Homo sapiens: one gene and its partners. The protein of the gene in region 3 purifies or fractionates together with the protein of the main gene of each other region. This does not show direct contact. Each region holds a gene or a part of one and is shown on either strand. Other genes may lie near its edges.

Region 1 (7,024 bases), on a different chromosome or scaffold from region 3:
TCTTACTGACTTGAATTTCTCTGGGCTTTGCTTTTGAGTGATTAAATTCTCAATCAACTCAGTGAACTAATTCATCGTTCAGTGGTGCTTTCATTAAATTTGCCTTAAGGTATACAGCAAGCTTGTCTAACCCCCGGCCCAACACAAATTTGTAAACTTTCTTAAAACATTATGAGATTTTTTTGCAATTTTTAAAAAGCTCATCAGCTCTCGTTAGTGTTAGTATATTTTATGTGTGGCCCAAGATAATAATTCTTCCAGTTTGGCCCAGGGAAGCCAAAATATTGGATACCCCTGGTATATAGCTTTCAATGTTAGATTATCTGCTGCTTTAAAGACTAAACTTGATAATGTTTAATGGTAACATTTTATTTGTCTCCCAGAATTCTGCCATGTGAGAGGCAAATAGTTTCAAATGATAGGGATGGAAGGTACTTTGAGAGATTACCTGGATTCCAGCCTTCAGCCTACTAGTAATATCTGTTAAGTAAAAACCTAGTATCTTTCTTTATGAACCCTGGCCATTGGCTTTCTTTAATCTAGCTGGCCATATTGAAGAACAATATTATGAATAAAAGATATTTGATTTTTGTATTAATATGTACACTTTTAAAGTCTCTTATCCTTTGGAAAATATCTTTCGTTACCCTTTTTATGTTGAGAATTGTTAGGAATAAATTTTTCTGTTTTTTTTTTTTTTTTTTTTGAGACGGAGTCTCACTCTGTTGCCCAGGCTGGAGTGCAGTGGCACGATCACGGCTCACTGCAACCTCTGACCCCTGAGTTCAGGCGATTCTTCTGCCTCAGCCTCCCGAGTAGCTGGGACTACAGGCGTGTGCCACCACACCCAGCTAATTTTTGTATTTTTAGTAGAGACGGGGTTTTACCATATTGGCCAGGCTGGTCTCAAACTCCTGACCTCGTGATCCCCCCGCCTCAGCCTCCCAAAGTGCTGGGATTACAGGCATGAACCACCGTGCCCAGCCTAAATTTTTCTTTTACTTAACACAGTTAAGACTGAAAATTTTCCTAAAAATGTAGATTATGCCTCTAGTAGAAAGTATGGTGAGTTTTTAATAATGAATATAAGAAATCTGGATAATAAAAGCTAAGTATTAAACATTACAATATGGTATTCATTACTTCTAGAATATTTGACCATTAAAGTATTTTAAGTAAATTTTAATAAAAATGGTTTAGAATATAAGTAAGAAATCTGTTTACTTTTCACAGGTCATCAGTGCATGTGGTATGTGCATGCGCATGCATGTAACTGATTTTTATCAATTGAAGCAGAAAGGAATGTGTTGTTGACCTTTAAGGAATACCTGTGAAAAACACAAAATCCTTAAAGTACTAATGTACTAATGAATACTTAAGCTAATTGAAAAGTAAACTTCTAGCCAGGCATGGTGGCTTACGCCTGTAATCCCAGCACTTTGGGAGGCCGAAGCAGGCAGATCACTTGAGGTCAGGAGTTTGAGACCAGCCTGGCTAACATGGTGAAAACTTGTCTCTACTAGAAGTAAAAAAAAAAAAAAAAATCAGTCAGGTGTGGTGACAGACACCCGTAATCGCAGCTACTCGGGAGGCTGAGGCAGGAGAACTACTTGAAGCTGGGAGGCAGAGGTTGCAGTGAGCTGAGATTGCACCGCTGCACCCTAGCCTGGGGTACAGAGCAAGACTCCATCTAAAAAAAAAAAAGAAAAATAAACTTCTTTATAAATCACTTTGAATATTTCATGATTGTGTATCTCAAGTCTTTTCATTCATGGTAGAGAGTAGGTATTCCTAAATTGTTGGATGAAAACTCTATTGATAAAATGTTATTTTATTTTATTTTAATAGACGGTATCTCAAACTCGTAGGCTTAAGCGATCCTCCCACCTGGGCCTCCCAAAGTGCTGAGATTATAGGCATAGGCCATTGCAGCCAGCCAATATGTGATTTCTTAACTTTTCCTTTTGGTAACCAGGAACAGGTTTAAGATGTATGAGTGAATTATTGTGACTCATACATCTGTTAAGTGCTTGCTTGAATCATAGCCACCTTACTGTATTGACAATTAGTTACTGATGACTTAGTTCTTGTTAAGTAGAGACGTTCTGTCTGACACAGATATTTGCCAGTAATAGAAAATATGCTTGAGTTTCAGTTTCATAAATATGTATATTATAGCTTCACTCAAAATCTTAATGTGGATATGGACAAAGTTCTTTATTATACTAATGTTAATTCTGTAGTATAATTACAAAGAAAACCATTTACACTTACATTGTGTGTTACCATTTACAAAGTGCTTTGGTTTTTAATAACAACCCCTAAAAGTAGGCAGGGTAGGCTTTTTATAAGCCTTATTTGGCAAATGGGAAAAGTAAGACTCAGAGATCAAGTGACTTGCCCCAAGGTCACACAGAAGTAGAGTCAAAATTTGATCCTAGATTTTGTAATTGAGATTCCTTCTACTATATTGCATCGTTCTCTGTATATTTATCTTCCTTATCATCTCAATATTATATAACAATAATATAGGGGTCAGAAACCTAAGACCAAATTCCACACTTAAAAAAAAAAAAACCTCGTCTACATGCTTAGTGGTATGCTAACTCTATGATAATTCAGTAGATCGATTATGCTCCCCATTTCTTTTCAGTGGTATGCACCTTGAAAAACTACATATTACTGCCTGTCACAAGATATAACCCATCTTAACACTGCTAATCTTGGTCTTTTAATGTAGAAAACTTGGTTGTGTATTAATAGTAACACACAAGAAAAACACTTTTAAAAAGAATATTTGATGACACATTTAAAATTTTTATTGTGACAGTTGAATAAATGTTATTTTTATCCTTAAATGAGTTTATTATTATTTTATCCAAAAATGTACTACTGGTTCAGATTTGTCATTTTGGCTTTACAGCAGTTAGAAGAAAAAAGTGAAGATCAAGAAGACAAGGAATGTTTAAAACAAGCAATAACAGCTTTGCTTAATGTTCAGAGTGGTATGGAAAAAATATGTTCTAAAAGTCTTGCAAAACGAAGACTGAGGTGAATATTTTTACTTTTTAAAATATCCTTTTTTCCCTGAATATTGTGGTGTAAATTCAGGGATCCCAGTTCCCTCCTCAAGTAAACAATGAAGAAAATAGTTTTAGTGACAAGCCTGGTCTTTTAGAGGAAGTGACATCAAAGCCAAGAGAATTGTTATTGTTTGAAAAACCTTTCATATTTGTGCATTTTCCTTGCATACTCCCAGACAAGACCTCCTGAGAGTCAACTGGTAAGCTGAAGGAGAGACAGAGTAAAATGTATCGGGTAGATTTATGTTGGCATCGTTATTCTGTCAAAGTAAAATTATTAGTGTCCTTTATTTTAGGGATTATATAACTTGAGGCATTAATTCAGATAACATTGCTTCCACTTTCCTGATTATAATATGTGCTACATGTTTTTAGCTTTGGGTCTTGTCCATTTAAACTCTTCTAAATAATTTATTTTAATCTTTCAGATTACTTTTTTTTACTGTATTGGGCTACTTTTTATTAGTTGTCATTCTAAATATTTAGTAGCCAAGATAGAAATAATCATTTTGTAGTTACATTTAAGGAGAATTTTGTCAGCAATCATTGTGCTTTTTAGAACACTGAAAAAAATTTCTAGGTTGCTTTAATTTTCAAAATTGTGTAATTTTGTAATTCTAATCTATTTGGGGAATTAGTGAATACCTTCTCAGTGAGACTTGTAAAAATCTACTTTTACACTTTCCCTTACTTACATGAGCTCTAGGTTTTCTGTCATCTATGTACTAATAATGTCTTTTTCTTTATTCCAGTGAATCTGCATGTCGGTTTTATAGTCAGCAAATGAAGGGGAAACAACTAGCAATCAAGAAGATGAACGAGATTCAGAAGAATATTGATGGTTGGGAGGGAAAAGACATTGGACAGTGTTGTAATGAATTTATAATGGAAGGAACTCTTACACGTGTAGGAGCCAAACATGAGAGACACATATTTCTCTTTGATGGCTTAATGATTTGCTGTAAATCAAATCATGGGCAGCCAAGACTTCCTGGTGCTAGCAATGCAGAATATCGTCTTAAAGAAAAGTTTTTTATGCGAAAGGTACAAATTAATGATAAAGATGACACCAATGAATACAAGCATGCTTTTGAAATAATTTTAAAAGATGAAAATAGTGTTATATTTTCTGCCAAGTCAGCTGAAGAGAAAAACAATTGGATGGCAGCATTGATATCTTTACAGTACCGGAGTACACTGGAAAGGATGCTTGATGTAACAATGCTACAGGAAGAGAAAGAGGAGCAGATGAGGCTGCCTAGTGCTGATGTTTATAGATTTGCAGAGCCTGACTCTGAAGAGAATATTATATTTGAAGAGAACATGCAGCCCAAGGCTGGAATTCCAATTATCAAAGCAGGAACTGTTATTAAACTTATAGAGAGGCTTACGTACCATATGTACGCAGGTAAGAATTATGCAGTTGCCTGTCACTTTTGTTTTCCTGCTTCAAACTGATTTTCTTTCCTGCATGGGTTTATTGTGCCTAAAATAGAAAAGAAACTAACAACCAAAGACCTCTTTTCTTTGACTAAAAATACCCCACTTTATATTTCTTTGGAATGTTTTACTTTTTCTACTACACTTAAATACTTTTTTTTAACCTTACCATCAGTTATAGATGAGAAAATGAGGTCACTTGGCTAAATTTATCCAGTTAGAAAGTGACAGAAACAAGACTAAAGTTAGTAGTAAATCATCATTATTGGGATCTAAAAAGTTTTTTACTCCTTTATCTTTTTTTTCTTTCTTCTTTTTCCATTTCTGAGATTATAAATAAAAATTTTAATATAACAAAATTGTGCTGGTAGTACAAATATACACGGCATTGCTTTCTCTCAGTTTCCACTCCTAAACCTGATTATTTAATAATAAATGTTGCAATCCTGGAAGCCAAGGATTCCAGTTTTATTATAATTTTTCACCTAGAAATGTCTATAGTCAGTGTATTTATTTTACTGACCCAAAAATTTAAAAAATCATAGGAAATGTAAATAGGCTGCCTAGATTTTACATGAAAAACAAATAGGTTATTGTCATTTTTTTCCATATAAAGCTGTTTTTTGAGAGGTACAATTTTTCGGTAGTATGACCTGCCGATTTAGTTGTGCTTCACCAACCTTTTCTATGTTCTTTATGATCTAGACTACAACTATAAAAATGTTTTTTATTCAGTTACCCAAAATTTGTGATTGCAAAATACTTCTTTTCTGCTTAAGAGATTTTTAAGGCTATAAAAGTTCAAATTGCCCTTCTTGCCACATTTTCCTGGTTTTTAAGTCCCCTTAGAGGACTCATAGAATTTTTATAACATGAGCATTCTAAACTTTATCATTTCATCCTAAGTACTTTTGTTTGGGGTTCCTAGACTCATTTGGAGTAAAATTAATCTTTAGATTTTTCTCTGTGTTTGTAAGAAAGAAGTTTTAATTTTTTTTTTTTTTTTTTTTTTCCTGTAGAGCATTGTAAGAAGACTTACTACTAGTGTTTACTGTCACAAGTCAGTGATACTTGGGCAGGAAAACATTTTCAAATTACAAAATTTTTAATTGTTTCTGTAAGACTTGATTGAGTGATAGAAGTTTTCTCTAAATTGCTATATTTCACAAAGTTAATTTATGATTATTAATAAGCAGCTGAAGAATGGTTACAACTATTGTCTGGGGAACTGTCCCTTTTATTTATTTTTTTAAATGAGGACACTTTAAAGCAAAATTAACTGGAACAAGCTGATACTTGTTTTGTAGTCCTGAAAGTCTTCTTTCCTTAATGTGTACAATGTTAGGTAAAGTCCGTGGACATGGTACTTTTGTAATGATGTTTTATTAGTTATTTCTGTCTGATACTTCTTTTCTATATCAATTTTTAGCTTTGGTATAGAGTAATATTTTGAGTGCTTTTACTTATAATGAATATAAAACACTTAAATTTCAAGATTTATAGAACTTTGCCAAAGTTAAGTGTATTGAAAATTTAAGTTGATGAGATTATTTTACTTAAAAAAAATGTTTTTAAAAAATTCCTTCCAATAATTTTTTGAGAAATAAAAGGCCAGTGTTGTGGCTAAGTTTTTTGATATTTTTCTTTTCTGTCTTCTTTTGAAGCTTAACTGAATATTTTAATTTATGTCATAAATATATTACTGGTGAAACTGGAGTCTACAAGCAGCTTTCGTGAGTTGTGGTTTACAGTACACACACATTAGTGTTAACTGTTAGCTTATTTGGGCTATTCTGTAAGGTCTGTTACTGAAGTTATTACTGGCAACATAGAATGGTTTTTAATAGACCATCTGTGAACTTGTAAAACTGAAATGGACTTTTAAGGCCTCACTACAATGGTAACAGATCAAGTTACCATTTGTTTTTAAGAACTACTGGTCTGCTCTTCTCCTCTCATCTTTCTTCAGCCTCCCCAAAGAGAAAAGGGATTTGTGATTTGGTTAGTAGGTATGTTTATTGGAGAACATGCAGTACAGGTTGTGGCTTACACTGAAACAAAGCTAACATTTAACTTACACATTTTTATTTTATTATATAGAATTGTAATAAAAGACATTGGATATAATACATGAGAAAATTTAATGAATACTATAAGACACGACTTACAGACATCTTTTAGATTATTATAGTTTGGTTAGACATTGTCATAAAAACAGAAGAGAAACTGGTTTAACCTTACTTTATTCAGACTTCACTGTGGTGTCAGCCAACTTTATCCCTCAAATATTTTAACAGTAATGTACAAAATGGAGCTATAGATCTCTAATGCTAGAAGAGATGCCCAAGCCTTCACTTTGTAGACAAATCCCAAGGCCCCTGAAGATTATATGATTTCCCAGAAGTTCTATTACGAGTTAATTCCAGAACAAGTCAAGAATTAGGTTTCTTGACTCTAAATAGAGTATATTTTCTACCATGTTACATTGACTCATATAAGGT
Region 2 (8,014 bases), on a different chromosome or scaffold from region 3:
GGATAGTAATCCTCAAGAGACTTGCTCGTGTGTCAAAGTTTCTCCAAACCATGAGGACCACCTGAATAAAAATGTCTAAGCGAGGCTGGGCATGGTGGCTCACGCCTGTAATCTCAGTGCTTTGGGAGGCTAAGGAGGGAGGATCACTTGAGGCCAGGAGTTTGAGACCAGCCTGGGCAACATAATGAGACCCCTGTCTCTACAAAAAATACAAAAATTAGCTGGGCATGGTGGTGCATGCCTATAGTCCCAGCTACTCAGGAGGCTGAGGTGGGAAGCTTGCGTGAGCTCAGGAGTTGGAGGCTGCAGTGAGCTGTGATTGTGCCACTGCCCTCCAGTCTGGGTGACAGAGAAAGATCCTGTCTCAAAAAACCGAACCAAACCAAAACAAAAACAATTAAGTGCCGGGTGCGGTGGCTCACGCCTGTAATCCCAGCACTTTGGGAGGCAGGTGGATCACTTGGTGAAATGCCATCTCTACTAAAAATATAAAAAAATTAGCCGGGCGTGGTGGCAGGCGCTTGTAGTCCCAGCTACTTGGGAGGCTGAGGCAGGAGAATCACTTGAACCCAGGAGGCAGAGGTTGTAGTGAGCCAAGATCACGCTACTGCACTCTGGATGACAGAGCAAGACTCCATCTCAAAAAAAACCAAAAAACAAAAACAAAAACAAAGGCAAAAACAAAACAACCAAAAAAACCCGAACAAATAAAAAAACAAAAACAAAGAAAAACTAAGTGCTTGTCACGTCCTAACTCATTTCATCCTCTTAGTGATCCTATTAAAGATCTAGGAGAGGCCGGGTGCGGTGGCTCACGCCTGTAATCCCAGCACTTTGGGAGGCCGAGGCGGGTGGATCACGAGGTCAGCAGTTCAAGACCAGCTTGGCCAAGATGGTGAAACCCCATCTCTACTAAAAATACAAAAAATTAGCTGGGCGCGGTGGCAGGCACCTGTAGTCCCAGCTACTCAGGAGGCTGAGGAAGGAGAATCATTTGAACCCTGAGGGTGGAGGCTGCAGTGAGCCGAGATCGTGCCACTGCATTCCAGCCTGGGTGACAGAGTGAAACTCTGTCTCAAAAAAAAAAAAGAAAAAAAAAATCCAGGAAATAAGAACCATTATTTTCCCCATTTTACAGCTGAGAAAATGGAAAACTCAGATAACTCAAGCAACTGGCCTGAGGTAACACAGCGTTTGTTTGTTTGTTTGTTTGTTTTTTTTGAGACGGAGTTTCTCTCTTGTTACCCAGGCGGGAGTGCAATGGCACGATCTCGGCTCACCGCAACCTCTGCCTCCTAGGTTCAAGTGATTCTCCCGGCTCAGCCTCCTGAGTAGCTGAGATTACAGGCATGTACGACCATGCCCAGCTAATTTTGTATTTTTAGTAGAGACGGGGTTTCTCCATGTTGGTCAGGCTGGTCTTGAACTCCTGACCTCAGGTGATCCACTTGCCTCGGCCTCCCAAAGTGCTGGGATTACAGGTGTGAGCCACCATGCCAGGCCTTTTTTTGTTGTTTTTTGAGAGGGAATCTTGCTCTGTCACCCAGGCTGGAGTGCAGTGGGGCGATCTCAGCTCACTGCAACCTCAGCCTCCTGGGTTCAAGCGATTCACATGCCTTAGCTTCCAGAGTATGTGGGATTACAGGCATGCGCCACCACAAGCGGCCAATTTTTGTGTTTTTAGTGGAGACGGCATTTCACCATGTTGGTCAGCCTGGTCTCGACTTCCTGCCTTCAAGTGATCCGCCTGCCTCGGCCTCCCAAAGTGCTGGAATTACAGGCGTGAGCCACTGCGCCCGGCCACAGGTCACAAAGCTATTGAGTAAAGAAAGCTGCATCCAGCCTCTCACCTTAAGAAAGCCATTCCCCTTTGCCTCAAAGTGAGGCTATACTTCCAGAAGGACTTTGTCTCCGGGGAAGCCTTGGCTTTGGAATTCAGGCCCAGTTCTAAGTTTAAAATCATTGATGCTGTTCAGTAGTGGGATCAATGATTTTGCTTCACTTAAATGCCACAAGCTCCCTGAAGATGGGCTGGAGCTGTCACAGCATCCAGCCCCTCCCCTTACCCAGAAGTAAATACTCTTATCATAGTCCTCCGACTATTCTATATCCTTCCATTTGAGTGCTTCTTTTATGCCGAGGGCACTATTGAGATGTAGCTTAGAGAATGAAATTCCTGGTGTTGCAGGGAGCTCAGATCCACCCGGGAAGGTTCATGAGCACTTCATGTCAGCAGCCTTTATTTCATCTAACGTTTCCATAGAGTGAAGGAACAGCCACCCATTACAAAACAAATTATTAAAAGAAAAATTCCAAATCTTCAAAGGAGAGAGGCCCATGGTAGTGAGCGCTCCCACCCCCTTCTCCTTTCTCTTCCCATCACCAACGGGCTAGCAGCACAATTTGTTTCTTGAAACTTTTGGGGGCATCGGAGTTCTGGTGTCCTCATTTTTCTTCCTTCCCATTGATGTATCATTACTAGAGTGAAAAAAGAAGGGCGTCTCGAGGGCTTTTGAAAAAAAAAAAGGGTGACTACTCAAGACATTTTGTAAAGGGGGGAAAATTGCGAAGAAAAGAGACCTCAGTAGGGGGTGGAGGAACTGTGAATGTGTCCTTGTCTGGCGGTTCTTTCAGCTGAAACCTGGTGCTGGCGTTCGCAGTTCAGTTCAAACTGTCACCTTTAGTTCTTACTGGCTTTTCTGCCCTTGCCCCAGAACCTCAACAGATTGGGGCTTATTTACCTATTCACACTCCGCCGTGGAAGCTCATTAATAGGCTTTATTAGCAACACCATTCATGGGAGGCCATTGACGAAAGGGGTTCCAGCCACTTGAAGAGGGAAGAGAAAAGAAAAAACTGTAAAGAGATTATTTTCTCATTCAGAAGCCTCAGTGGTGTGAAGGTTTTCCTGGATGGTCTGAGGTCACTTGAAGACTAAATATGGGGACATAATTGATTTTTTAAAAATAATTCTAAACATACTTCCCCCCCCTCCTCAAAACTGAAGAGTTTCCTGTTGTGGTCTTGTGGGTTTCAGTCCCTTATATATGAGCCCTCTTTAGGGAATAAGGAGCTTTTGATAGATTGGTGTCTTTTCATTTCTATAAAAAATACATTCTGCAAACTGTGCCTGGACATGAAAGTAGGTGTTCTTATTTGTCATTTTCAGCGGAAAGCTTCCTTTCCATTCAACATGCATAAAGCTATTGATGAATGGGGGATAGGGACAGCGGCTTCCTGCACCATTAATTTATGTGAGAATGTGTTAACAGCATTTTCAATGGCTGATGGATGCGGTGTAGGATGGGAAAGGAACTGTCCTGAGACACTCGAGTTTCCCATTGGTGGGGAATATAAAGATGTAAGTGGCAACCTGCGAGCAGGCAGACACGTTCAGCTGCATCCCTTTTCTGAGAACTTGAAAACATACTGCTATCAGAACAACCCGTGTGGGAGTGAATGGCTAAGTGTCAACCTGGGCTGAGGTGTCCGTTAATGTATAGGCTCTGGGGCTAATCCAGGTTAGAGGACTTGACCAAAAACATACCCTCCCACCAAGCATATAGAGGGATAATTTTGCTTAAGAACCAGTTTTTATTTTGTTGCTATCAAATTTCCAAAATACAATGTTATAGCCTTTTGCCTGAGGCAGTTAAATGGATTTCTTACTTGTGTGGCTTTTAAATAACTTGCATAAACGTTTTCTGTGCTATATTTGTGAATAAAAATGATTTTCTAATCATGTAGCACCTTGAAAAATATTTTTGTAAATGTTATGAAGGGTGCAATGTTAGTGACACAGGTGCAAATATGTTTCTAAATCCAGGAAAAGTCTGTTTTCCAAGTCAGGTTTGTTCTCAATGCTTCATCTATCTTCAGGCCTCAAAAGGATTCTAAAGCATTTCTGGGTTTAGTGACCTTTTCTAAAGAAAAATAATTAAGGTTTTAATCTATATGGTCTTGAACTTAAGCACGGCTGCTCAGGAGCTGGATGAATAAGGAGGGAGAAAAAGCATATTTAAAATAAATTATTCCGAAGACACGGCTTAGTGAAAAGGTAAATGGACATAGGAACTTTAACCAGTTACAGCTTGGTGTGCAGTTGAAGAATCAGATTTTGCATTTATGATTTTTAATCTAAGATTCAGAGGGAGGAATTACTTTGTTCAAGGTCTATTTATGGTAGAGTTGTCTTTAGACTCCTTTGAATTTCTTTTTATTAATCCAAACATATATTATTAAACACTTTTTTTTTTTGATGCAATTTTGGCTTTTTCTGAGAGAGCCACATTCAAAGTCAGGCTGTCCTAGTAGCCAGCTGTGTGGTCCTAGGCAAATTACTTAACCTCTCTGATCCTGTTTCCTTATCAGAAACTGGGAATAGTACTCTGCAGGGTGGTTGGGCAGATGAAATAGAATCACCTATGTAGTGTGACCCTCCCATAGTAGGGCCTCCATTAATATTCAGTTTTTTCCTCTCATTTCTATTGTTTAGAAGGACAGAAACATGCAATGTCCTGCGAACATTTCCAAGTGGCTTCCTCTCCTCCAAAAGCTTCAGCTGCCTGGCAACCCTCCCCGCAGTATCAAGCAGGCGCATTTTAAAGTCTCTTTAGCGGGAGGGCAGGGTTAGAGCCTTCGGTCATTTGTTTTCTAACTTGACATAAAACAACGTAACGCAGTCGCTCAGCGAGCCGTTGGCCAGCCTCGCTCGCCCGGGGAGGAGGGAGGAGGTGGCGCGGGGCGCGGGACCAGGCCTTATTCGGAGGCTGTCGCTGCATCCCTACGGCCGCATCGCGGCCGAGCCCTCGCCTCCCGGGCCGGTGTCTCCGGCTGCTCGGAGGCGTCGGGAGCCGCGCGGGACTCGGGGCGGCCCGGGCGCGCGGCGCTGATTGGCAGAGAGGGCGCCGCCGTCCAGGAAACGGCTCGGGTTTCAGTGGGGGCGTGACCCGCCGCGAGGAGGCGGGGGCGGCGGCGGCGGCGCGGGCGGCGGCTGGAGGAGAGCGCGGTGGAGAGCCGAGCGGGCGGGCGGCGGGTGCGGAGCGGGCGAGGGAGCGCGCGCGGCCGCCACAAAGCTCGGGCGCCGCGGGGCTGCATGCGGCGTACCTGGCCCGGCGCGGCGACTGCTCTCCGGGCTGGCGGGGGCCGGCCGCGAGCCCCGGGGGCCCCGAGGCCGCAGCTTGCCTGCGCGCTCTGAGCCTTCGCAACTCGCGAGCAAAGTTTGGTGGAGGCAACGCCAAGCCTGAGTCCTTTCTTCCTCTCGTTCCCCAAATCCGAGGGCAGCCCGCGGGCGTCATGCCCGCGCTCCTCCGCAGCCTGGGGTACGCGTGAAGCCCGGGAGGCTTGGCGCCGGCGAAGACCCAAGGACCACTCTTCTGCGTTTGGAGTTGCTCCCCGCAACCCCGGGCTCGTCGCTTTCTCCATCCCGACCCACGCGGGGCGCGGGGACAACACAGGTCGCGGAGGAGCGTTGCCATTCAAGGTAATCGCCGCGCAAGACGCCTCGGGGAGCTTCGCCAGCCGGGGACGTGGGCGCCACGGGAGCCCGGGACGCCGGGTGCACCGTCCTCCGGGCGGGGGGCGCGGAAGGACTAGCATTGTGGAGGACGCTCCGTGTCCTCCCTCTGTGGCTGCATAGGTGATGGGGGAGGTGGGTGCGTGCTGACGGCCGGCGTTCTGGAAGTTCTGCCTCTGCTACCCCCATCCAGATGCTGACATCTGCTTCTGGCGTTGACGCCCCCCTCCCTGTCAAACCCTGGCGGGCGCATTCCCGCTGACTGGGCGCGTTTCTCCGACCCCAGAGCAGACGGGCGGAAGGTTCGCCTGCCCGTGGCACAGCCCCGCAGGCCGGTTCCCGGGGTCATCTCCGAGGTGCCCCATCCGTGTGTCCTGGGAACTTCCGTACCATCCAGGCCCTGCGGAGACCCCTTTTTCGGGAGGGGGCCGCTGGGGTGGGGCCGGTGACATCCCGTAGGGGTGGCGATGGCCAGGGGTGGCACTGCTGGGGAGGCGACGGCTCCGGTGCCTGGGCGCCCCTCGCCCGCAGCCGCCGTCGGCGCTGGAGGGAGCGCAGTGCGCCTGGGGCTAGGGGGCGAACTGGACCGACTTTTTCTAGTTCGCCTGCCTGCTCTGCCGCAGCGGCTGGGAGATGTCGAAAGCGCAGGCGAGTTCTAACTTGCGCGCTCATTTTTTTCGGCCACGGGGCCGCGCTGGGGAAAAAAGCCGAGGGCCCTGCGTGGCGCTGGCTCCGACCCTCGCGGACCACGGACCTGGCGCAGGAGGCCCGCTCGGGGACCACCAGCCTCCGTCGCTCTCCTCGCACCCCGCTCCCTTGCAGACCGTTCTCCAGACCCTCCTTCCTTTCTCCCAATTCAATAAAACCTACCCTTAAAGGCAAACCTGCTTTCAAACTCAGGGCACCCATTATGTGTTTGGTGTGAAACGCTATCAACATTTAAAACTCCATTGTCTCCCTGGTCCCAAATCCCTGTAAATCTTCCACCGGGCTCGACTCATTTTCATCTGAAAAGCCTGTTTAGTTTGAATAGAAAAGCAATCAGGCGCCCCTCTCTCTTTCCCTGGAATGTCAATTAAAATGCAGATTTCTCTGAGCTCTTTAGCGCCCCGAGAAGGGGGAGAAAAACAGGATATTTCAGGCAAACAAATGAAAGAAGTGCTGCCCTGAAAGGGGGTGGTGGTGGGGAGCACCCCCAAGCTGCTCGCAAGTTCTGATTGGACGCAAGCATTAAACCGGGAGGGCTTTGTGGTCCTGGGTCAGTGTGTGTTTTTTGAGATTTCAATTTGTTGAGGAATTTCCCCCTAGCCTTGACCCCTTGACAGCTCCCGCTCCTACTCAGTGCTGGGGAGAAGTAGGGAGGCCTTAAGCGAAGAGATGGGTCTGCACTTTGGAGGAGCCGGACACTGTTGACTTTCCTGATGTGAAATCTACCCAGGAACAAAACACCAGGTGATCCCAGTGGCCGAGCCAGCAGTGGACAGATCACCCCTTAGGTGGAAGCCCAAAGCGGAGGGCACTGTATTGGTCTGCCTTCTTGGAGGGCGGGGGTTTTGGGAATGTCATGGTAAATTGAAGAGCCCAGCACAGGCCTGGCATGGGGACCGCTCCGCAGCCAAGCCCTTCCTGCTTGTCACTCTGCCTGTCTTTGGGGGCAGGCTTGTGCCGAGGTGAAAATGGACCGGGGGGCGGGCGGCCGAGAAGAGCCATCCATCAGAGGGAGGGTGACAACTCCTCCCGCGTGCAGGCTGAGAAGAGAGTTCCCTTTCAAGGGGAAAAATAAACACGCTGGGGCTTTCACTGGGGCTCAGACTCCAGGAAGGATTATGGTATTGAAGGCAGGAAGCCGGGATTGTGGCCGCCAGCGGCATGCTGGGCCTGTATTCCCAACACCGAGCCTGGGGACCTAATTATCCTGCCTAGGAGGTCGCACCATACTTTTGTCCACTGGTGTGAGGAACTGTGCAGACCTGTCGCCTTAGGTCTCCGCCTTCCAGAGTTTTGGGGAGGGGGCTGCCGTGGGGTTTGGACCTGGAAATGGCTGAAATGCAAATTTCTAGTGCCAGCTAGCGGGATGATGGAACGGCTTGAGATTCAGCGGAGCGCCCTGTCCACCTTTCTCTGCCTGGAGCCAAGGAGGCTCCTCTGGGCAGGGACAGGTGGGCGAGCAGGCCGGGGAAGGAGCCTGGGGTGAAACCTCTGCGAGGACTTAGGATTGTTCCTGAAGTCGTGTTAGAGGTAGAAAATTCCCCTGCATTCTGCAAATGCTTAGTAAATCAATGAGAATGTTTGTGTACTTTCCTCCCACATGTATGTAGAAATAGATCCGAAATTATCTTCTGAGGCTCTTGACTAAGAGGAAAGAAAAGTTAAGAGGAAAAATCTTTCAAGCTATCTGAAAGCACATGCACACACCGTGCACGCACACACCATGTACACACACACACCGTGCATACACACACACCATGCACGCACACACACCGTGTACACACACACACA
Region 3 (7,024 bases):
AATGTGACATGTGTTCTAATGTTTTACCTTCTCCCTCAAACACATACTTATGTACTTAACTATTGCACTTGGACATTTCCCTGGGCTCTCAGTTTAACATATCTGAACAAATCATTATCACTTCCTCTTGAAGACTACAGTTTTTTGTATCTCAGGTAATAGACCCCTGGCACCCTTTGTCTGCCATGCTGGAAACTGCCTCTGTTTTCCATTATGTCAAGTCAGTTCTTTGGTGCCACTGACTTTTCCTCTTAAATGTTCCTTAAATTTATTCTTTTCTTCTTCATTCCTACCATTGCTGCTCTTGTTTTAGGTTTTTATCATATTTCATTTTTTAATAATCTCAAACTGATTTTCTTTCCTCTGAGCTAAACTCCTACTTAAATTTATCATACATATGTTTATTTAAAATGCACTTCTGACCGTCTCACTTTTCTACTTAAAATACATCAGTGGTTTTCCATCATGTGTAGGATAAATTCCTTTCTCTTTGGCATGGCATACAAGGCTTTCATATCACATATTAGGCATTTCATTAATTATTGTTGTATTGAACTCAAACATTCAGTGTGGATAGAGTCCCCAAGTAGGTTGCACTGCCACTCATATATCACTTAATGGTGGAGATTCCTTCTGAGAAATGTGTCATTAGACAGTTTCGTCACTGCGCAAACGTCATAGAGTGTACTTACACAAACCTAAATGGTATAGCCTACTATACACCTAGGATATATGGTATAGCCTATAGCTCCTACTCAACAAATCTGAGCAACATCACTGTACTGAATACTATAGGCAGTTGTAACACAATGGTAAGTATCTGCATTTCTAAACATAGAAAAGGTACAGTAAGAAAACTATAAAAGAGAAAAAATGGTACACTTGTATAAGGCACTTGCCGTGGATGGAGGTTACAGAACTGGAAGTTGCTCTTGGGTGAGTTGGTTAGTGGGTGGTGAGTGAATGTGAAGGCCTAGAATGTTATCGTACACTACTGTAGGCTTTATAAAACTGTACTCTTAGGCTACGCTGTTTGTTTAAATAATTTTTTCTTCAGTAATAAATTAGCTTACTATAACTTTTTTACTTTATAACCTTTTAATTTTTTGAAACTTTTTGACTCTCTTATAATATTTAGCTTAAAACACACACATTCTACAGCAGTACAGAAGTATTTTTTTATATCCTTTAAGATTTTTTTCTGTTTTTAAAATTTTTAATTTTTTTTTAACCTTTAAAACTTCTGTTAAAAACTAAGACAAAGACACAAACACACACATTAGCATGGGCCTATACAGGGTGAAAATCATCCATATCACGGTCTTCTCCTCCTACATGTTGTCCCACTGGAAAGTCTTCAGGGGCAATAACATGGAGCTGTCATCTAGGAAAACTGCACCTTCTTCTGGAATACCTCCTGAAGGACTTGCCTGAGGCTGTTTTACAGTTAATTTTTTTTTTAATAAGTAGAAGGAGTATACTCTGATATAATAGTAAGATACATAGTATAGTAAATACATAAACCAATTACATAGTCATTTATCATTATCAAGTATTACGTACTATACATAATTGAATGTGCTATAGTTTTATACACTGGCAGTGCAGTAGGTTTTTTTTTATACCAGCATTATCTCAAACACATGAATAATGTGTTGCACTGTGATGCTGTGATAGCTATAGTGTCAGTAGCTGACAGGAATTTTTCAGCTCCCTTGTAATCTCAGGGAACCACTGTCATATATGTAGTCTGTTGCCAACCAAACATTTGTTATGTGGCTCATGACTGTATATCCCTGCCAGCACGAGAGGTTCTACCTTAACAGGTAGCTTATGAAGATGCCAAGTGGAAGGATGATTTTCCTGCTCCTTTTGAGAAAAAAAAAAGTTTAAAAACATTCCTTTGGAGCATCATCTTTTGAAGCAAAAGCCATACTGTAGTAATCTTTTAGCTCTTCATATTTCACAAGGAGGTCGGGGAGAACAAATATGTACTTTCAAGAAGACTTTTAAAAAATGTCTCTATCAATTATCCCTTTACTTAAAATTTCTTATATTACTCATCCTATAATTTATTAATATTAAACATTTACTATTTTTTAAAAAATTAAATGTTTATAGAATATGTGCCATGTCTGAGGCAGGAGAATCTCTTGAACCTGGGGGGCGGATATTGCAGTGAGCCGAGATCACGCCATAGCACTCCAGCCTGAGCAACAAGAGCGAAATTCCGTCTTGGGGGATTTAAAAAAAAAAAGAATATGTGCCATGTAAGTTGGTATGCTTAGTGCCCTGGAAAATGAACAAGACAAGATTTCCTGTCTTTAAAGAGATCACAGCAAAGTGGATGGTGCAGAAAGATAAACATTGCAGTAGAGTACGATAAAGGCCACAATAGAGTTATGCCATTCTATTGTGGGAACACTAGAGGCAGGCTATCTTCGAGTTAACTGGAAGATCAAGTCTCAAATCTAGGGAACATGTCCCTAGCTTGTTCAGGCTGCTTTATGGTTGGGCCCCATTTGTCTTCCAGTCTACCCTGTAGTCCAGTCATACTGAACGCCTCACTTTCTCCTGAATGTGGTGTGACACTTCATGACTTTTGTCTGTCTCAGGTGCTTATTTCTCTTTATTTTGCTTAGCATGTTGTTTCTGCTCTTCTTTTAAATCCCAGCTCAATTAGTGCTTCCTGTCCTGCCTAACCCAGAAAGTTAGTTGTTCCCTTTCATGTGCCCACAGTACTCTGCTCATATCCTAATATAAGGTTTATCGCAGTGCATTATCTATTTACATCTCTCTCTCTCTCTTTCTCTCTCTCCCCCTTGATACTCACAGCTCTTCAAAGACAAAGATGGTGACTTATGTGTCCTTGTACTATGATACTTAGCTGGCATATTAGTTAAAGCAAAAATACCAAATATCATGAGTCTTAATTAACTTTACTATTATATGTTATCATATACACTCTTGGTTTATACGCTAGTACACTTTTTCATTTTCTTAATACTTATACCTGCTAGGGATCCTTCACATTTGTTTAATACAGTCCATTTAAATCACAGGTCCTATAGCACCTTCTGTATGCTAGGTATCGTGTTAGGTACTAGGAATGTAAAAATGAGTAAGGTTCATCCTTGCTGACAAGGGGCTCACAATGGAGGAGAAAAGACAGATAAACAGATACCTGCCACAATTTCTACTCAGTACAAAGTGTGATAGATGCTATGATACTAGGAAGCCCAGGGTGCTTTGGGTTAGCATATGCATGACGGTCATACATAATAGTATAACTTGCCTAGTTGCTTGGAGTCAGGGAAAGCATCCTAGAGGAACTGCACTTTGAGTTGAATCTTGAGAAAGGAAAGAAGCAGAAAGGGAGCAGCTTGGAAGGATGTGAGAGACCAGGATGCTCTGGGGAAACTGCAGCTTGTTTATTCTGACAGGACTAAGAATAGGGCTTGAAACAGAAAGCAGGGAGAGTCTAGACTGGATCTGTTAGACAGGGATTACATTGTATCTGATCGGATCTATCATACTGAAGAGTTTATACTGTTAAACTGAAGATAGTGGAGAGCCACTGAATAATTTTCAACAAGCTTCAATCAAATTTATGTTTGTAATGTTTTGTAGCTTCTGTGCTTCCTTCCCTCCTCCTTTTTCATATATTGTCATATTCTATCTGATTATTTCCCTTGTTTGTAAGTGATGCTTTGGAGTTTTCTTTGTCTGCTCAGTTGGAGTGTTCTTAAACACTCAATGTCAGGTATATAACCACTTACCTCTAACCTTCTATGGGAAAGGAGTATTAAATAGACATGCTATATCAGTTTTGCCAGTATTCTGTGTGTTACTTTACTGCTTAATTTTGAGTTGTCTTTCTCTCTTACCAATGCGCTATTCGAAATTTGATTTTGTTTTAATTACCAATGAACTCTTGTCTTGTGGAGACATAAAAGATACTACAATGAGTAACAACAGTCAAAATACCTGCCAAGCCAGAAGTTCACCATCCCTTTGGTGATTTTTTATTTAAAGAACAAGCCAGGTCTGGTAGTCCTGTAGTCCCAGCTACTCAGGAGGCTGAGGCAGGAGGATCACTTGAGCCCAGGAGTTTGAGCCCAGCCTTGGGCAACATAATGTCTGCCTGCCTGCCTGCCTGCCTGCCTGTCTCTGTGTCTCTGGCTGTCTCTCTCTCTCTCTCTCTGTCTCTCTCTCTCTGTCCCTCTCTGTCTCTCTCTCTCTCTTTAAAGAAGGACATGAAATTCCTGATAAGCCACAAAGGGTTAATTTCATTATTAACTCTTGAACAAAAATTAATTATTTAGGTAATATTATATATGAGACCTTAAGTTGGTTTTTTTTTTAGATGATTTTAGAATAGGTGACCTTTGCAAATTTAACTAGAAATTTGAGATTTGTTTGACATTATTAATGCCTCACAAAATTTATTCTCATTATTACTGAGTAAAATCAACTAGCTAGTTGTATAAAATCTAGCTGCAGCCATATACCTTGTTGGACTTAATTTTCTGCATCAGAATAATGTTTGTGTTAGATGATTTCTAAAGTCTTTTTCTGTTTACAGTTTTTGTATCCTTCATCTAATAAATTTTTCCAAATTATTTTTCATGTAGTGCACACATGGTCTTCTGAAGAAGCCATGGGTAGCTGTTGTAGCTGTCCAGATAAAGACACTGTCCCAGATAACCATCGGAACAAGTTTAAGGTCAGTAAAACTGGTTGAGTTATATATCTTACTGCCTAGTTGGGTGTTCTTCTTTTATTTCACTTAACATATCTTATTTCTGGCTTTTATCACCAAACCTTTCTATTTCCCTTTCTTTCCACCCTGTCTTTCTTGATTTAATAAATGATGACAACATTTTCTTACAGTATGGAATTTTTTTTAGTTTTCCTTCGGTCCTCTGTATCTAATTAGCCATACCGTTCTGGTAATACTGTTTTTAAAATGCCATTTTACGGGGTGCCTTTTCAATCTCATCACTATCTGTCTTTCAGTTATTATTTTCATGTGTGCCTGTGTGATTTCTTAACTGGACTCTACCTCAAGTCACCCTCTGATTCATCCTGTAGTCACCATCAAATTAATCTTCTTCTCTCATCATTCACTAACCTCTTTGCTAAAATTGTGTGGTGTTATTTTACCTGTAGGCTAAATGCTGCTATAGCTGTTTTGTGTCTGATAATTTGACCTCGATCTGTTACAAAGAATAGCCTTGATCACACAAACCTAGGTGTAAGTCTGTCACTTTATAAGCTTTGTGACCTTGGGCAGGTTACGTTATTACTGAGTCTTAATTCCATTTTTGTACAGTGTAGTCTAGGATTGTTATGAGGGTTAAATACATGTAAAGCTCTTTTCCTACTCCCAGGGGAATAGTAACTTCTCCCTAAATGTTACCTACTGCTCTTAGTCTTTGGATGTTTTCTGAAGCTCAGCAGTACAAAGCCTTTCCTCATATGAACTCTGTGCCAATCTATTTTGGTGTCTTTGAAAGGTACTTTTTTTGTTCTGCTTTAACATTGTGTCTTTATGATGTCCCTTTATCTCCTGACCCACTAGATTTCCCCTCTGATTTTATTTTCTGCGTAAATTTATTTATACTAGCGGTCCAGCTAAAGGCCCTCCTCCTCTTAAATGAAGGTGTCTCAACAACCTTAGACCACACTTCCTGCCTTCTGCAGCCTCTGTTGCATTCCTTTGTCAATTAATCATACACTTTTGTGGTATTGACTTTGTGTTTCTACATTTTGTTTCCCCAGTGGGAATGTAAATTTCTTACAGATCTGAACTGGGTGTTACACGGCTACGTAGTCCATGCCTGATACACACATTGGTTGATGAATGAACTAACAAATTACAAATAACTAATTAGCAACAATGCATTTTCCTGACGAATTGGTGACATATTTGCATGACTGTCACCTTCTTTTTTTAGGTCATTAATGTGGATGATGATGGGAATGAGTTAGGTTCTGGCATAATGGAACTTACAGACACAGAACTGATTTTATACACCCGCAAACGTGACTCAGTAAAATGGCACTACCTCTGCCTGCGACGCTATGGCTATGACTCGAATCTCTTTTCTTTTGAAAGTGGTCGAAGGTGTCAAACTGGACAAGGTAGAACCTTTGTTTTTTTTCCCAAATATTGTATTTGAAATTGTTTTTTCAGCTATTCTGTATACAAAGATTAAATTAATATTTTTCTTCTGAAAAAAATCCCAAAATAAACAGATTGTTAAGGAAAGATATAGTATACTGTGTATTAATTTATCAACTGTTTATTAAGCACATTGTCTATGTGAGAAATTTTGGCTCATGTCAACTTTAAGATTTTTCAGTAAATGATTGGGTCAGCTAAATTGACTAAGTGTCTTTATCATTGATTTTTTTACTACCTACTACTTGAATGGCCTTGACAAGTTACAGGACTTCCATTGAATGTTAAATTTCTTCTCTATAAAAGGGAAATGGTAATACCTATCTTTTAATTATTGTAATAATTAAACAAGATAACAATTGGAAAACACCTAGGGACTTTCCAAGGGGCCTGTTACATGGCAAATGATCACCTTGGAATAGTGAGTTGGGCTCCCCCTGCTGTTAAGAAACAGACTAGCGTAAGTGCGCAGGTCTTGATTTCATTAGCTTTATTTTGGGCCATCTCCCTTAGATGAATGAAAATTATTCTGTGAACTTTTGGCGGGGGTTTGTTTTGAAACAGAGAATAATCATTAATTTATCAGATATTTATTTAAAAGGGATTTCTGACTCGGTGCGTAGAATGCTTACTTTACAATTCTGCTGTTTGTCAAGTGTTCCTATAGTTTTTTTTAAAGGTATGTTAACTATTTTTCCCTTTTGGTTTATATTTGTAGGAATCTTTGCCTTTAAGTGTGCCCGTGCAGAAGAATTATTTAACATGTTGCAAGAGATTATGCAAAATAATAGTATAAATGTGGTGGAAGAGCCAGTTGTAGAAAGAAATAATCATCAG

The links.
Region 1: the proteins of FRS2 (region 3) and SOS1 purify together in Homo sapiens (affinity purification with western blotting; 5 studies listed by BioGRID). This does not show direct contact.
Region 2: the proteins of FRS2 (region 3) and FGFR2 purify together in Homo sapiens (affinity purification with western blotting; 2 studies listed by BioGRID). This does not show direct contact.

What each region holds. Positions count from the first base shown.
Region 1 is NC_000002.12:39,020,037-39,027,060, reverse strand, and holds part of SOS1 (son of sevenless homolog 1), read left to right. Parts: intron 1-2,923; coding exon 2,924-3,051; intron 3,052-3,835; coding exon 3,836-4,491; intron 4,492-7,024.
Region 2 is NC_000010.11:121,595,430-121,603,443, reverse strand, and holds the start of FGFR2 (fibroblast growth factor receptor 2 isoform 1 precursor), read left to right. Parts: upstream 1-4,999; 5' UTR 5,000-5,482; intron 5,483-6,798; exon of another isoform or gene 6,799-6,967; intron 6,968-8,014. UniProt on the Homo sapiens protein: Tyrosine-protein kinase that acts as a cell-surface receptor for fibroblast growth factors and plays an essential role in the regulation of cell proliferation, differentiation, migration and apoptosis, and in the regulation of embryonic development.
Region 3 is NC_000012.12:69,564,371-69,571,394, forward strand, and holds part of FRS2 (fibroblast growth factor receptor substrate 2), read left to right. Parts: exon of another isoform or gene 1-2,270; intron 2,271-4,634; 5' UTR 4,635-4,660; coding exon 4,661-4,726; intron 4,727-5,960; coding exon 5,961-6,147; intron 6,148-6,905; coding exon 6,906-7,024. UniProt on the Homo sapiens protein: Adapter protein that links activated FGR and NGF receptors to downstream signaling pathways.